Regions from separate parts of the Homo sapiens genome. Here region 2 is linked to region 1. The links come from fine-mapping of genetic effects on plasma protein levels. Region 1 holds a variant in brackets. A gene starts in the other region. All regions are shown on their forward strands.

What was found. PIP is the posterior inclusion probability: the model's chance that the variant is causal. Protein levels are from antibody-based Olink assays in UK Biobank. Linkage for the fine-mapping came from a reference panel and not from the study's own genotypes, which makes the PIPs less certain.
Region 2: LAMA4 starts here. The variant in region 1 is fine-mapped to the plasma level of the LAMA4 protein (UK Biobank, PIP above 0.99).

Annotation. Positions count from the first base shown.
Region 1 is chr17:35,939,167-35,947,504 of GRCh38, forward strand. It overlaps LYZL6 (lysozyme like 6), which reads right to left and starts at 4,547. Exons shown (of 5, transcript NM_020426.4): 1 at 4,401-4,547; 2 at 52-392. The coding sequence starts at 190. The variant G/A (reference allele first, on the strand shown) is at 3,639.
Region 2 is chr6:112,251,373-112,259,710 of GRCh38, forward strand. LAMA4 (laminin subunit alpha 4) reads right to left here and starts at 3,195. Exons shown (of 39, transcript NM_001105206.3): 1 at 3,087-3,195; 2 at 2,584-2,919. The coding sequence starts at 2,778. All of the region lies in intron 2 of LAMA4-AS1 (LAMA4 antisense RNA 1), which reads left to right.

The DNA.
Region 1 (8,338 bases):
GGACATGACTAGCAGAGGAGAAATGGCTGGGGAGGGGCGGATGGTACTCACAGTCACTCAGGGAGTAACCCTCAAACCCATCCAAGTCCTCCAGCTGCAGCACCTGGGCCAAGTCACAGCGACTGATGAGGCTGGCCTGATTTAGGGCAAGAAAGCTGCTGACCAAATAGATGAGTAGCGCCTTTGTCATCCTTGGAGGGGAGGAGGTGCAGCTGAGGGCTGATGGTTCTTAGGGTCTTGCAGACTTTCTGCTGATCTTCTCTGAGAGCCTGGGGAATCTGGAGAGGGCAGCCAGGTTTCCTTACTCACTCACTGCTCCAACCTGGCTGTTTCCAATCTCTTTTCTCTTGTTTATTATTTTATAGATTTTTATTTATCATGGAAAATTAAACCTTTAAAAAAGGAAAGAGAATAGTATCATGAACCTCCATATACCCACTTCTGAGCTTCAACATTCAAAAACCAAGGCCAATCTTTCTTTGTTGTTGTTTGTTTTTTATTTTTTTATTTTTTAGAGATGGGGGTCTCACTCTGTTGACCAGGCTGGTCTTGAACTCCTGGCCTCAAGTGATCCTCCCATCTCAGCCTCCCAAAGTGCTGGGATTACAGGTGTGAGCCACCACACCTGGCCAATCTCATTTCATCCATAGGTCCTCTTATATGGGCACCCAGCTATGGGTAGTATTTGGGTATTGGGATGGGGAGTGAGGTTGGCAAAGGAGATTACTGAAGACTATCTTCACCAGCATATGTGTGTGTGTATCTGAGCATGTGCTTTTAGAAAGAGGGCCAGGACACTGGGTGCTAATCTCCCCACAACCCCACTCCCCCAGACACATGACACATGATTTTTCCCAAGGGCATACCCTGCCTGGTACAATTCTTGGTGGGCTGGCTGTAGACGTAACCTTCACTTTCACATTGTGTATGTGTGTGTGCGCGTGTGTGTGTGTTGAATAGCAAGGGCCCTAGATTCACACTGCCTGCTTTCAAATCCTGGGGTGCTATGTGACTTTGGGCAACATACTCAACCTTTCTGGGCCTCATTTGTAAAATGAAGATATGCTAATACCTACCTAAAAGGGTTGTTTTGATGATTAAATGAAATAATGCCCAGATCTTGGTTCACATTCCACACAAAAGGGAACCAGGACTCTAGGAAATATGGCTGATTCCCAGGCTGGAGCAGGAAAGGGTTATGAGATGTCTGGATTATCTTGCTGTACAAGAAATTTAAAAAGTGCTCGAAATATGTATTGGGGCATGTCAAATGGACACAAGAGCTAGCTCAAAGGGGCACCGACTGGCCAGATCTGAAACGATGTTTTTTGGTAACAGCATTATTGAGATATAATTCATGTATCATACAATTAATTCAGTTAAAGTGTACAATTCAGTGGTTTTCAGTATGTTTGCAGAGTTGTACAACTACTACCTCACTTGATTTTAGAATATTTTCATCAATCCAAAACAAAACCCTGCACCCATTTAGCAGTCACTGCCCATCCCCCACCTCCCAACCCCTGGCAACCACTAATCTACTTTCTGTCTCTATGGATTTGCCTCTTCTGGACATTTCATACACACGGAGTTACAGAAAATATGGCATTTTGTATCTGGCTTCTTTCACTTAGCATAATGTTTTGAAGTTTCATTCAGGTTGGAGCATGTAATGATACTTCATTCCTTTCTATGGTTGAATAATATTTCATTGTATGAATACACCATACTTCGTCTATCCATTCATTAGTTGATGGACATTTGGGTTGTTTCTATTTTTGGCTATCATGAATAATCCTACTATGAACATTAACATACTAGTTTTTGTGTGGATATATGTTTTTATTTCTTTGGAGTAGAGTTGCTGGGTCATGGGGTAACCCTAGGCTTAAGCTTATGAGGCCTACCAGATTTCCAAAGTGGCTGCACCATTTTGCATTCCCATCAGCAGTGTATGAAGGTTCCAATTTCTCTACATCCTCACCAACACTTGTTATTATCTGTCTTCTTGACAAAAGGTATCCTAGTGGGTATGAACTGGTATCACCCTGTTGTTTTAATTTGCGTTTCCCAGATGGCTACGGATGTTGATCATCTTTTTATGTGCTTATTGGCCACTGTATATCTTTGGGAAAATGTCTATTCAGAACCTTTGGCCAGTTTCAAATTGAGTTGTCTTTTTATTACTGAGTGGGAAGAGTTCTTTATATATTCTGTATACTAGACCAGCATCAGATATATGGCAGATATTTTTTTCCCATTCTGTGGGTTGCCTTTCACTTTCTTGGTGGTGTTCTTTGAAGCCCCAAAGTTTTTAATTTTGATGATGTGCAAGTTATCTATTTGTCCTTTTGTTGGGTGTGCTTTTGGTGTCATATCTAAGAAACCATTGCATAATGGTTTCCAACCCAATCTGGGACAATTAGACCATCAGAATAAATGACAGTAACAGATTATACATTAAATGCAATAGGAATCCATGAGCCCATAATAATAATAAATTGACAAAAAGATACATTGTGTGGAGCTGAAGCAGAGACCTCTTCCTGACAATAAAAGGCCAACCGATAAGTGTGGAGGAAGTCATGGAGTTGAAAAATAATCACCATTTTGCAACTATCATAGATTGGTTTGAGAACAAATCATCATTGCATGCTAAATCTGAGGTGGTGGGAAGAATGCTGAAGAACTGGATATATCATGATCTTATAGGGTCTCCCCACAGATTGCTTATTAGTTGCACAGAAAGAAAAAACAAAACAGTATACAGTGGATAACCAGACAGTATTTTGACCTTGCAATCAAAATTAACATCTCCAAAGACGGACAGAGGGACATTGTGTGCCTCCAGATGTGATTCCCAAGGAGGACACATCGCTTATGCAATATTCCGTCCAGGGATGCATAGGCTATGTCTAATCCTGAGGAAACATCAAAGCCAAACTCACTGAAAATCTGTAAGATAACTGGCCTGTATTCTTCAAAATGGCCAATGCCATGAAAACTGAAAGACTGGCCAGGCATGGTGGCTCATGCCTGTAATCCGAGCACTTTGGGAGGCTGAGGTGAGAGAATTGCTTAGGCCAGGAGTTTGAGACCAACCTGGGAAACAGCAAGACCTCATCTCTACACTAAAAAGAAATAATACTTCCAATAAATCTGAAAACCTGGGACTATTTCTGTCACTGAGGGAAGGTGTGTTTTTCCCCTTAACTTAGGTATATGCTGCTGAGGGGGCAGAAGCCTGAGTTCTTCCACCCGCCGCCTTCAAGTGTCAGGCGGCTTCTGCTTGGACAAGATGGCTACCCTGGTGGGCTTGTTTCTTCTCTGGTCTTGTTATAGGAGGCAGAAAGAAACTACTTAGGTAGACAGTTAGGGTAAAGTGAATCCCCAGCAGAAAACTTTCCTTTTAACGCAAAGCAGCTCAAAGATAGCTCCCTTTCTAACCTCACGCAGTTCAAGGAAATCACTTTTCTTCTAACAACAACCAGCCTGAAAGAGCAAAGGGTAAAAACAGATAAGAGCTCAGGCACAGAAGGATGGGGGAAGTCTCCTGGGTAATCACCAAACTTCACACTTATACAATGGGCCCCAGTAAAACAGTGGGCCTTAATAACTACATTCCTTTCTCTTTAGGC[G/A]CGCTAAGATAGGGAAGCTAAAAGCAGAATCGATGGGTATGCCTACAGCTGCAAGATGTGTGGGAATAGACACAGAAACTCTCGCTCCCAGATAAGCAAGACAAAGAGACACAGACTAAAAGTTGATGTGGTCGGGAATGGGGTGAGAGCCTATTAAAAACTCTGCTCTATACAGATAGCACACCTGGTCCCAACTGAACCATCGGGCTCTAGGAGGATAAGACATCCCCTCCTCATGAATGCCCCTCTCTAGCCCATTTATAAAACCCTGACGTTTTTACTACCACCTGGCAACCTGCCTGGGACCTCTGTCTGTGACAGAGAGCTGTTCTTTCCTTTTGCCTATTAAACTCCTGCTCCAAACTCACTCTGTGTGCGTGTGTGTCTGCGACCTCGATCTCCTTAAACGTGAGACCACGAACCTTGGTATTTACTTCAGACAATGAGGCTGCTTCTGTCTCTTGTTCTATCTGAGACTCGTTCCACACCAGCCTGAGCTTCGGGCCATTCTTTTGCTTCTCCCATCATTCTACCCCCAGAGCTGACAGATTTGGCAAATAAAATTTACAAGATGCCCTGTTAAATTAGAATTTCAGACAAACAACCTACTCCACACTGACTCAGGAGGGTCCCTCAGAGATAGATGTCACTGAGCCTCGGGAAGCAGGAAGCTCCATCCCTGCCCATTAAGCCCCCTCTCAGGGTCCCCTCAAGGAAGACAGTGGCTCCAGAAGGTATGTTCCCACCCCTTCCACAGCTTACCTCTCTCCCATCCCTCTCTGACCCTGGGTTCCACCTGGCCCAGAGATTTCTGGGAGGATCTGTAGAACAAGGCTGTCTACAGTAGGAGCCTCTTCTTCCTCACCACATACACTTCAGCCCTGCCCAACTAACAGCTCTCCATGTTCTAAAGAAGGCTTCTGGAACCCCAGTTCTGTGACGTCATCCATCTCCTGGAAATACACTGGTTTTAACCAGGCAAATTGGCCAAGCATCAGGCAGAAGTAGCAGCTGGGCCTGGGAGGACAGGTGACATCTGTGAGGAAAATGGCCGGGTGGGATAGGGTGGAGAGCACTGGCTGTTTCCTTCATTTTTGGGAACAGCACCACCTTTGGGGGGACTCCTTCCCTCATGGGGTTTTAGTGGGGGCTGCCAGTCCTGGGGTCCTGCCCCCCACCACCCCCCATAAGCATAGGAATGCTTGTGTGCCAGTCACTATATTTGTAAACGGAAGCTGGTGGAGCTGCTCAGCTTCCAACAGGAAGCCCATGTGTGCAGGGCCAGAGGACATAGCCCATCTAAGGTGCTAAGCCTCCGTGAAGAGGGAGCGGAGTCTGGACGGGATTCCAGCCCCAGGGTCCACCCTTTCTGGGACCCAAACACACCCTTCCCCTCCCTTCAATTCTGAGATTCAATAAATGTCCCCACTCACAGAACAAGTTTGAGTTGGGTTTCTGTCACTTGCAGCCAAAAGAGCCAGTTGTAGTCGGCATGGGGTCAACCATCTGTGATATGGTGACCTGACACCCTGTCCCCTCCCTGTGAAGGCCACAACATCCCAACATCATTAGTCACCGAGGAAGTCTGGGAGAAATTTCTACCAACTGTAGCAAAAAAGAGGCAAGGGAGAAAACATCTTGTTACTGACGGCCCACTCTTCCCTCTGAAACAGGGAGGCAGGATCTGACAGAAAAATAGGACAAGGGGCTTCTGAGTGGGCAGTGCTGCCCCGTGCCCCTCCAGACTTCTCTTCCCAGCAGGGCAGCAGTGCATGGCACCCTGGGATAGAAGGCCTGCAGGGGCAGAGGGGAGGCTGAACATGCTGGGGGCACCACTTTATGAGAAACCATTTGTGGCCAAAAATCTACATGGGCTTCAGATGACCTGAATGAACTCGTCTCTGTAGAGTGAGAGTCCTGGGCAGGAGGAAAGGTTTCCATAGCCAAGGACCACATGCTTGGAAATTTGATCTCTGAAACTTAAGATCTGAGAGAGGATGGTCTCCCAAGGAAGTCACATGAGCCTCAGTTTAATCCTGTTGGTTTGCAGAAGTTTCCACTCCCTCTGGAGGCTGGGTTGGGACCTCCTGCTGGGCTGCAGAATATTTAGTCTCTTTGATAGGCTCTGAAGTTATGGTCATTCAAAGGGGGTCCAGAGGGACCCTCCACCTCCAGCCCCCTAGCTGTGGCAAACATGGGTAGATTCCTACCCATTCAAACAACTGGAAAACCCAAGCTGGGACCCATGAGTCAAGTCAGCTCAGGGCAAGAGGACAGATGGATACCATAGGCCATCTGTCTCAATATTTGCAAGTTATAAATTAAACTAACAGACTGTTAAAGTATGTCCTACCCTCATACTCTGACAAATATTCCTTTAAAAGGATAAAATTTTAAAATGTGTATGAAGCTATGATTTGTATTTTTTTTTTTTTAGAGATGGAGTCTCACTCTGGAGTGATCTCGGCTCACTGCAACCTCTGCCTCCTGGGTTCAAGCAATTCTGCCTCAGCCTCCCGAGTAGCTGGGACTACAGGTGCATGCCACCATGCCTGGCTAATTTTTTTTTGTATTTTAGTAGCGACAGGGTTTCACCTTGTTGCCCAGGCTGGTCTTGAGCTCCTGAGCTCAGGCAATCTGCCTGCCTCGGCCTCCCAAAGTGCTAGGATTACAGGCGTGAGCCACCACGCCCGGCCGATTATGTTATGTTATGTATGTTAAAGTATGTCCTATCCTCATCCTCTGACAAATATGCCTTTAAAAGGATAAAATTTTAAAATATATATGAAGCTATGATTTGTATATGACAGAAAGTTAGCAAAATGTCAAAGATCATGAAATTTCATGTTTATTGCGCATGTCTGGGTGCTCTGTTGATGGGCTGACAATATTGGGATGAGTAATAAAGATGTGGAATTTATAAATTACTGAAACTATTCCATGAAATGTATTTTTCTTATCTTTCAGCAAAATCGGTAATTATGTTATTATTATCAAGATTTGAAAATACATGTAAGGATTAAAACAATCATATTCAAAGTACAAATATCTTAATATTTTCATCAAAATTATGTTTATGTAAAAAATTTAATTTTATCAGGAATATTTTCCCAAAAGTTAGTTTTCTTTTCAACTATTGAAAAGTATCCATTAAACCAAAAGGCAACATACAAATTAGAATTAGTCAAATTTTTACGTCAAAATGATTGAAATAAATCCATTTTATTTTGATTTTTGAAAACTTGATTAATTTTTATTAATTTTAAATTCATAATTCTAGCATTCAGTGACCACCAATGTAAAGAACAGGCATCATGGTTTGTCTGAGGGCTAGACATAGATACAAATTTTAGAGTAATGTGTAATGTGATTTGTTTAACCCTTTTTCTGTTTGCCCAGAGAATACTCACTGGTGGCACCTGCAGCTGCAGTGTTTACCCCAAGATAACTTTGCCATGAAATATTTAACACAAAGGGTAAATGCTTGAGGGGATGGATACCCCATTCTCCATGATGTCTTTATTATGTATTGTATGCCTGTATCAAAACATCTCAGGTGCCCCATAAATATATACACTTACTATGTACCCACAAAAACTACAACTAAAATTTTAAAAAGTAATGAACTATTGCCACACAAAACAACATGGATAAAACTCAAAATAATTATACTGAGTGAAAGAAGCTTGACAAAAAAGAGTACACACTGTATGATTCCATTTCTAGAAAGCACTAGAAAATATAAACTAACCTATGATGATAGAAAGCAGATCAGGGCAGGGTACAGTGGCTCACACCTGTAATCCCAGCACTTTAGGAGGCTGAGGTGGGCGAATCACTTGAGGTGAGGAGTTCGAGACCAGCCTGGTCAACAAAGTGAAACCCTGTCTCTACTAAAAATATAAAAATTAGCCAGGCCTGTTGGCACGCACCTGTAATCCCAGCTACTCGGGAGGCTGAGGCACAAAAATCACTCGAACCCAGGAGGTGGAGGTTGCAGTGAGCCAAGATCATGCCACTGCACTCCAGCCTGGGAGACAGAGCAAGACTCCATCTTAAAAAAATAAATAAATAAAATAAAAACGAAAGAAAAGAAAAAAAGAGAGCAGATCAGTAGTTGCTTGGGGGTGGGGAGGTAGAAAGAGCAGGAAGCAGGATCACCAAGGGCAACAAGGAAACTTTTTGTGGGAACGGATATCTTCACTATCTTGATTGTGATAATGATTTCAGGTGTATACCAAGGGTCAGATGTTACCAAATTGTAATCTCTATATATGCACAGTTTATTATATGTCAATACCTCAATACATCTGCCTAAAATGTTTAAAAATTACTGTAATTATACAAAATATATTTTATGAAAAGGAAGTTATGGGTGGGCATGGTTGAGAACCACAGCATCAGATAGATTCAGAAGTGGGGGAAAAGCATCTCCCACTTCCCCTTCTTCAGGCCAGCGTGCTGTGCAATTTATCCAGTGGACACTAGAGGACAGCAGCGACTCAGGTAGAGGAAGTGGGCGTTTCAGGGCTTGAATGCTTAGAATTCTCTGCTCTGTGCTCCCTATCCTGGGCGGTGGGCGGTGGGCGTTAATACCCCCATAATACTCAGTTACCGCTGGGACTTGGGCCCTGGTCTGTGGCTCTTGATTCCACCTTGTTGGTCCCCCAACACCAGGAGAGCTCTCTGTGCTCCCAGAT
Region 2 (8,338 bases), not on the chromosome of region 1:
GAGCTTAGGAGAACCTCAGGAAGGCCTTCAGCCAAGCACCTCCCACTGCTCCATGCTTGCCTTAATATTTTTCTTCATTCCCTCTGAAGGAGAATTGCAGAATAACCATTCATATAAATCCAAGTAAAGAGAATGTATTTTTAGAATATCTTCCCATCCACACATTGAACCTCTCCCATGAATAATGTGTCCGTGTTCTCTTTCTCTCTCCACATATACACAAATACAGTCTCCTGAGCCAACCCAGTAAAGTGTTTGTACCATGTTATTAAGTCTCCGGAATGTATTTGGTTTAAGGTCTGGTTACTGCTATAAAGAGCATGGGAAACCTGATGGTGGGGCGTTGGGATCGCCATGGGACCGCAGGCTAACTGGAGGCATTATGTGAAACTATGCAGTGGGAACATAATTACCTCAATCTCACCCTTTCTACACCATATACTTTGACCTTCCTGGAATGACTAATATCTTCTTTCTGTTTTTCAAAACTGAAGGCCTCCACTGGCATTCTGAACCTATTAGACTCTGACATTACTACAAATTTAATTCACTACGTGACATTTTTTTTCCAGCTGGAAGAATATAGATAAACAGATATAATAATATTAAGTAAAAGAAAACCATAAACATAAGGTTCTAAGGAATATTCTCAAATAAGGGTTTCTTTTAATCTGATCATCATCCACATTTTTTATAGTAACAATTGTAACAACTCTTGGCATATATAGGGCATTTATACTATGTCAAGCACTATGCTAAGCACTCTATTTTATCTAATTTCATTACAATAAAAGTATGAGGTATGAAGCAGGCATCAATAAATTCTGTCAGTATCAGTTTATCTGCAGTCTGGGGATCTGTAACTTGACCAAGGTCAAAGAGCTTGAAATTTCAACTTGGGACCATCAGACTGAAAACCTGCAATCTGAAACACTTTGCTGTGCTGCCTTCCTATTATTTCACCAAACATATGAGCACATAAGAAATTTCCTAGGGTCTTAGCATTAATTTTAAGGTTCTCTAAAACTCAAAAAATTACTTTCCTATTTTTTTTGTGGGATGAGAGTTACAAAAAACAGTTGTATATGGCTTGTCTCTTTAGACCTAACAGATACAAATACAGGATGCCCGGATAAATTTGAATTTCAGATGAACAATGAAAACAAATTTTAATATAAATATGTCCTCTGCAGTATTTGGGATGTGATCAAAATTCATTCATTATTTATCTGAAATTCACATTTGAGTGTCCTGCAATTTATCTGCCAATTTTACTCTTAAGTAAAATTAAGCATTTCATTCAGGGACTTTACGTGCTCAAAGCAACAGGTGGAGATAATGCTTCCCTGGGGTTAATTCCAAGCCTGTAGAGAAGCAAAGCCTTCCCATTGCATGAAGTCCCTCCTGGTCTGGCTTCTCCCCAAGTTTCTGGGTATGAAGTTGACCAGAAGCCATGCTCCCTCTTTTTCATGGAGGCTACATTTTATACCACAGTGAGAGGTTGGCATATTCTGACCCTGTCCACTCTCTTTTTTGGGGCAATGTGGGTAGGGCTTACTCTGAAGAAGGACCATGTTCATGCACCTTATTTTTAATCATCAATAATTAATAACTATAATTGTACTAACAATTAACAGAATTCATAGCAATAATCCATGCATCAGTGATGTTAGAAATGGTGTCAATCCACATAACTGTTTTAGTTGTACAGTTGCTGTAACCATAGCTATAGAGTGTGGTGTTTGTTTTGCTAGGTCAATTGCTCCTTCCTTTCCCATGAACTTAGGTGACTTTATTTTCCTCCCTCTTAGCATGTCCCATGCAATGGGCATGCTGTTGTCTGTTTCAGTTCAGGGGTTCTTAAATCACTTGTTCTGGATTCATTCTCCTTTACCAGACCTCTACATTCTGGTTTTGTTTCCAACTTAAAAGCTATTGTAAGGTATTCAAACAGCAGCTCTTTGAATAAACATATTATCAATAGCATATCCTGAGGCTTGATTTTAATGGAAACATCTTGTTTCTGGAATACAATGGCTCGTTTCTACTTAAGATACCCTCTCAGCAGTTGTCTAACAGCTCCTTTCATGACCAGCCACTCTCACTCACCCCCTCACCTTCCCTGCTGCAGAAGACTTCTTGTCTAATATGAGACAAAAAGATCCTGCAGTAGTGTTCCCACTGTCCTAACAGCACAGAGGAGCAGGAAGCCAGTGACAGGGCACACACGTTAAGTGCCGTGGCTTGACAAAATGACTACTGGGACACGCAAGTGGCAGAAGTCACCGATGTGCTGCTGCAGTCCCCGGTGAGAGTCTAGCGGATGAACTCAGAGCACCAACACATGCACTCTCACCCCTTTGAGCAGACACATTCCGAAGCCTCAACTTTCAACTCTCAACATCCAAATGCAACTTACAAAGGAAAACTCTTTATTTCAAGTTTCCGAACTGACCTAGCCCAGGTGAAACTCTCAAGGCACTGGGGAGAGGAAAGAGGCGGAGAGAGAGAGAAGGACGAGTGTGGCACAGCCCGCGGGGGCGCAGGTGCCCCAGCAGGGTGGCAATGGCAGGGACACTGTACCTCGGCCGCAGGCGGCAGGCGTCCCAGAGCCACGCGGGGTTCGCTCGTCTCAGGCGGGTCTTGCCTGCCAACCGCTGAGCTCCCTTCAATGTCAAAAGGAAAAGCGTTGTCGTCCCCGGACGCGGCGCGGGAGCAGGCAGCGCTCCAGAGGAGCCACAGAGGCAGAACCGAGCGCCAGGCTGAGCTCAAAGCCATTTCTCCGCTGACATCCAGTAGTGCTCTTCCAGGGCTCGGGCGCTGTGGGTCTCCGTAGGTCTCCCGCGTGGTGCGGCGGTGCCTCGCTTATTTTCCCTCCTCTCCGTGTGCAGTATCCCGAGGTGGCTGCGCAACCAGCAGCTTAGGAAATAAAGGGAAAGTGCGAGAGTAAGGGAGAGTTCCAGCCTCTCTCTCCCTCTCTCTCTCTCCCCTTCTCCCCCTCTCTCTCCCTCTCCCTCTCCCTCTTTCACTTTTTCTCCTTCCCGCAGAGGTTCTGGCTCAAGAACCTACAGATGGACGGAGCTTACAGTACGGCATCAAAAGGCAGACGGATTGGGGTGAGCCCCGCCAGCGCTAGGCCACCTCCTCTCCCTGGCCGTTCGGGACTGGGGACTGCGCTGTCCTGGCTTCCTTCTCACATTCATTCTCACCACTCCCTTTTTACCTTCTACTCCCAGGCCCTCCCACTCTAAGCTGGCTTTTCAGACACTGAGGTCCGCCTTTCCCTGCGGTCTTCCCTCCCCTCTCAGTTTGGAGCCCCTCCAAGGGCTCCAGAAGAATATTCAGCTTTTGTGACGCTTCCTCACCACTCTTATTTATGTAGTCAAGGTACCGGATGTCTTATCTATATTTACATAGATATTTTATGTGGCCCCCGCTAGTTTGCAGGAAAGTGGGTGGAAAAGGGATTCCAGGGCAGGAACCAAAGGTAGATGATCTCTGAAGGCAGAGGGTCAGGGTGCCCACTTTCTTGAGCAAGGTTTCTCGGGTTTTTTCTGGGGGATAGACTGTTGCACTCTTTGTGCTAATATCTTCTCTTCAGATTCACTGGCCACCCCTCTTCCTCCCTCCAGTCCTCACCCAGAGGGCTTGGGAGAAGAATATCTTTCACTGCAGCGCTGGAAAATGACTTCATTACCCAAATGCATGAACTTTTATTTACAAAGACCATCTTGTTTTCATCCTAAAGAGGTGCTTTGTAAGGGGCCCGGAACAAGGCTTGCAGTGTATGAGCCTGTCAAGTATACTGCCTACAGCCCCGGCCTCTTCCTCTTGGCCTGTAATCTCATGCCTACTACATCTGTCTGAATCATGTAACCTTTCCAAGACTTCAGGGTGAAGTTGGGCTACAGCTATGTCAGGGGTGCCCCTGTGGATGGGATAGTGTCTGCAACAGCTGATAGGTACCTTTGTTTACATTGGCTTCATAACGAGCTCTAAACATTTCCACAAGATCCAACCATGGTTTAAAAATGGTCAGATGAGACAACCATAAAATGACACCCAGGTAAGCTTCCAGGTGAAATAAAGCATTTTTGTATAACCTAATCATAAAATAAATAAATAAAGCCTTTCCATAAAACCTAATCATTAGCTCCATTTCATAGAACAAAAGTCATTTTATCTAAGTGTAAGCAAAACCATTTATTTTGCACCTAACATGTGCCAGATACTTGGCATATGCTATTTGTAAACCTCAGCATTCCTGCAAAGTAGTACCATTATTTTCCTTTTACAGAAGAAGAAAGTGAGGTTCAGAGAGACTAGGACATTTGCCCAAGGTCGCACAGCTGGTGGAAAGCAGAGATGGGGTTTGGATCCAGGCCTCACTGATTCCAAAGCTCTCTTTTACATCTGTATACACGACACTGCAACTTTAAAATAAAGAGTATGAATTCAGAGGTGAAGGAAATGGACACTTTTATTTTTTGAGTGCCTCCCATGTGCAAAAAAATCACATAAATTGTCTCATTTAGGGCTGGGCGTGGTGGCTCATGCCTGTAATCCCAGCACTTTGGGAGGCCAAGGTGGGTGGATCATGAGGTCAGGAGTTCGATACCAGCCTGGCCAACATGGTGAAACCCCGTCTCTACTAAAAATACAAAATTTAGCCAGGCATGGTGGGAGGCGCCTGTAGTCCCAGCTACTCGGGAGGCTGAGGCAGGAGAATTGCTTGAACCCGGGAGGTGGAGGTTGCAGTGAGCAGAGATTTTACCACTGACTCCAGCCTGGGTGACAGAGAAAGACTCCAGCTCAAAAAAAAAAAAAAAAAAAAAAAAAAAAATTGTCTCATTTAATTTCATCTTTATGATAATCTCATGAAGTAGGGATTGTCATACACATTTGGCCATGGGTAAGTGGTAAAATTACTACTATAGCCCAGGTAAATCTGATGGTAAGATCTTTGATTTTAAATGATAAAATTGTATGATACAAAAGAACCAAAGCCAAAGGAAGCAAAAATAATTCCTATAGGTTTTAAAGTGATATTTTGATTTTAAAATATTAAAATAGTATTGCAAGGGACTATTAAGCTAAATTATGATACTCTTCTTTTACATAGACTTGTTAACCTACTAAATTAAGTGGGAGAAGTTAAAAACATGTTTGGTTTAGTTGAGAGACTGATATTGGGAAAAAAGATAGCCAGACTCTGAGACAAAACAGATTATGCTCAGTTATACTGACCCAGTCACCCTTTAAAAGAACATTAAATAATAATAATATTAATTATATATGATGTATATTAAATATTCTGACTTCAGATACAGATCTCTTCAGCTCACCAAAACTCATATATTTGTTTTCTGAAGGATTTCATCTTGTTCTTTACTAGCTGCCAATTAATCACACACTTTTTAATTTAATCTGGGCCCTCTTCTGTCTGCCTGCCCAGTGCTGGTAGGAGTGTATTCGTCCAAGACCTATGGACTTCTTATTTTTGGTTAAATATGTGCTCCCAGCTCTTCCTCTTCATCTTCTTTCTGTGGGTACTATTATTGTTTTTGAGACAAAATGGCATAATATGCAGGGGGATGGGTTTTGTATAAAATAAAACAGGGTTCAAATCCTGGGTCTGCATGTAGTACTTTTGGGAGCTTGGCATGTAACTTAGTCCCTCTGAAAGTTTCCTTCCCTGTAAAATGGGCATAATGATGCCTTTTTGTCATAGGCATTTCAACTAGAGCAATTCCATCTTGAATAGGGGCTGGGTAAAATAGGACTGAGACCTACTGGGCTGCGTTTGGAGGAGGTTAGGCATTCTAACTCACTGGATGAGACAGGAGATCAGCATAAGATACAGGTCACAAAGACCTTGCTGATAAAACAGCATGCGGTAAAGAAGGCAGTCAAATCCCAACAAAACCAAGGTGGTGACCTTGGTCGGACTCACTGCTCATTATACGTGAATTATATTGCGCTAACATGCTAAAATACACTCCCACCAGCACCATGACAGCTTATAAATGCCATGGCAACATCAGGGAGTTACCCTATATGGTCTAAAAAAGGGAGGAACCCTTAGGTTCCCAGAAATTGCCGACTCCTTTCCCAGGAAACTCATGAATAATCCACACCCTGTTTAGCATATAATCAAGAAATAACCATAAAGATAGGCAATCAGCAGCCCTTGAGGCTGCTCTGCCTGTGGAGTAGCCATTCTTTTATTCCTTTACTTTCTGAATAAACTTGGCTTTACTTAACTCTATGGACTCGCCTGGAATTTTTTGTTGCGTGAGATCCAAGAACCTTCTCTTGGGGTCTGGATTGAAACCTCTTTCTGGTAACATTTTCACTGAATTATTATGGGTAGTAAATGAAAGAATATAAATAAACATTAACACAGACTAGCATGTAGTCAGAGCTCAATAAATACTATTTAATTATACAATAAGCCCCCATTTAACATTATCTATATGTTCTTGGAAACTGCAACTTTAAGCAAAACAACATACAATGAAGCCAATTTTACCTTAGGCTAATTGACATAATTAAGATTTATTTAAATTCCTATGACATAGTTCTGGTCACAAAAACATCACTAAACTTCTAAAGAAAGACCAAAATGCTTCTAATGGTAAATATGAAAATAAATGTGAGCTATACGTACATTTCAGAAAGATTAATAGAAACAAGTGTGAGAATTATTTACCCAATGTTTGGTGAATCAGTGAGTGACAGCAGTCATAGTGGTGGTGGGTTAAAGCAAGGAATAAATGTTTTAAAGCAAAAATTATAAGCACCTCCTACCACCATGCAATTCAAAAAAACCCAACAACAAATATGATGGGCTCGCTGAACGCTTCCATGCAGCATCATTTATTGTCATATGCCTGTATGATTATTGTAGACTTCATGAATTTTTATTTGATAACAATTTTTGTTCATTATTCAATCATTTTCCAACCTGCTTTTTCCAACTCAGAGTGTTGGGTGGCTGGAGCCCATACTGGCAGCTCAGAGTTCAAGCTGGGGACCCTGGACAGAAGGCCATTCCATTGCCGGGCACGCTCACACACACACAGCCACACTCACTAAGACTGGAACCATGCAGACGTACCAAGGAACGAGGATATCTTTGAGATGTGGGAGGAAACTGAAGTACCTGGAGAAAACTCACGTGAGAACTTGCAAATTCCACACAGACAGTGGCTCCAGCCAGGAATTGATTTTTTTTTTTTTCTCACCAATATTATGACAAAGCAACATTGAAAGAAACAATGTTATTCTGGGACCTGCCTTACTATATTTTCAAATCTTAAAGAAGAACAAAATGACTATTGTAAAAGAGGAAAGGCAACCATTTTATTTATCCTGGTGTAGGTAACCTCCCATGTTTGAGAATAGCCATTCACATTTCTGGCTGCTACTGGGCCCTTCCTTGCATTAACCAGGAATGAGGCAGTCATGGGCCACAGAGTCATAGGTCAAGCAGATGAGGAGAGAGCACGGCTGACTAATTTACAGCAAGTTAAAAGGCAGCAGAAACCTTTGGTGAGTTACCTCCTCACCAAAGGGCCACTCCTTGACCACCAAACACCTGAGTGTAGGAGGATTTTATTCCTGCCACAAGGGCAACTGGGAAGCATTTCTAGTGCGGCTGCTTTCTTATCACGGCTCTCCCTTTCTCTCCCTCCTGGGATTGAGGCTTGGTGTTCACCCAGTCTTTTCATGGCTGTCATCGTTTTCGGGACACCTATCTACCCCGTGATGACAGGGGTGCTGCTCCATCATCCACAATGCATAGAAGACAGCACGGACATGCAGAGACGCTCACAGTGCCTACAAGGACACTAAGCCCGTTAGTACAAAACGAGGGCCCCCACACCATCCAACTCCCAGACCAATACTTTCCCAACTAGGCCGAGCTATTTTTGGTTCTGGCAGCAGCAGATCTGATGATTTTGAGGTTTTATCAAAAGAAGCTTCTGGAATTCCCTTTTGAGGACCCTAGTGTGATAATCAGCAGATAAATATCAGGGCTGCCTACCCCTTCAGAGCTTGGCTGTTAGACCTGTCCTCAGCATCCAAAGCCCTAAGGAGGGTGTTATTAACACATCCCATGTGCCCTTCTGTAAATAGAAAGTCACGTCAGATGCTATTTTGAACTTGTAAGTGCTAATCTTGACATAACTAGACAGAGGATTGTTGTGGGGACTGTGTACTAGTGACAATAATTTTGTGATGAGATGAGTCAGAGAAGCAAGTATGAACTATCCCCCACCATGAGGTCTCTAACTGGCACTCAAGTAGCAGGACCAGAAAGTGTAAGATGGCG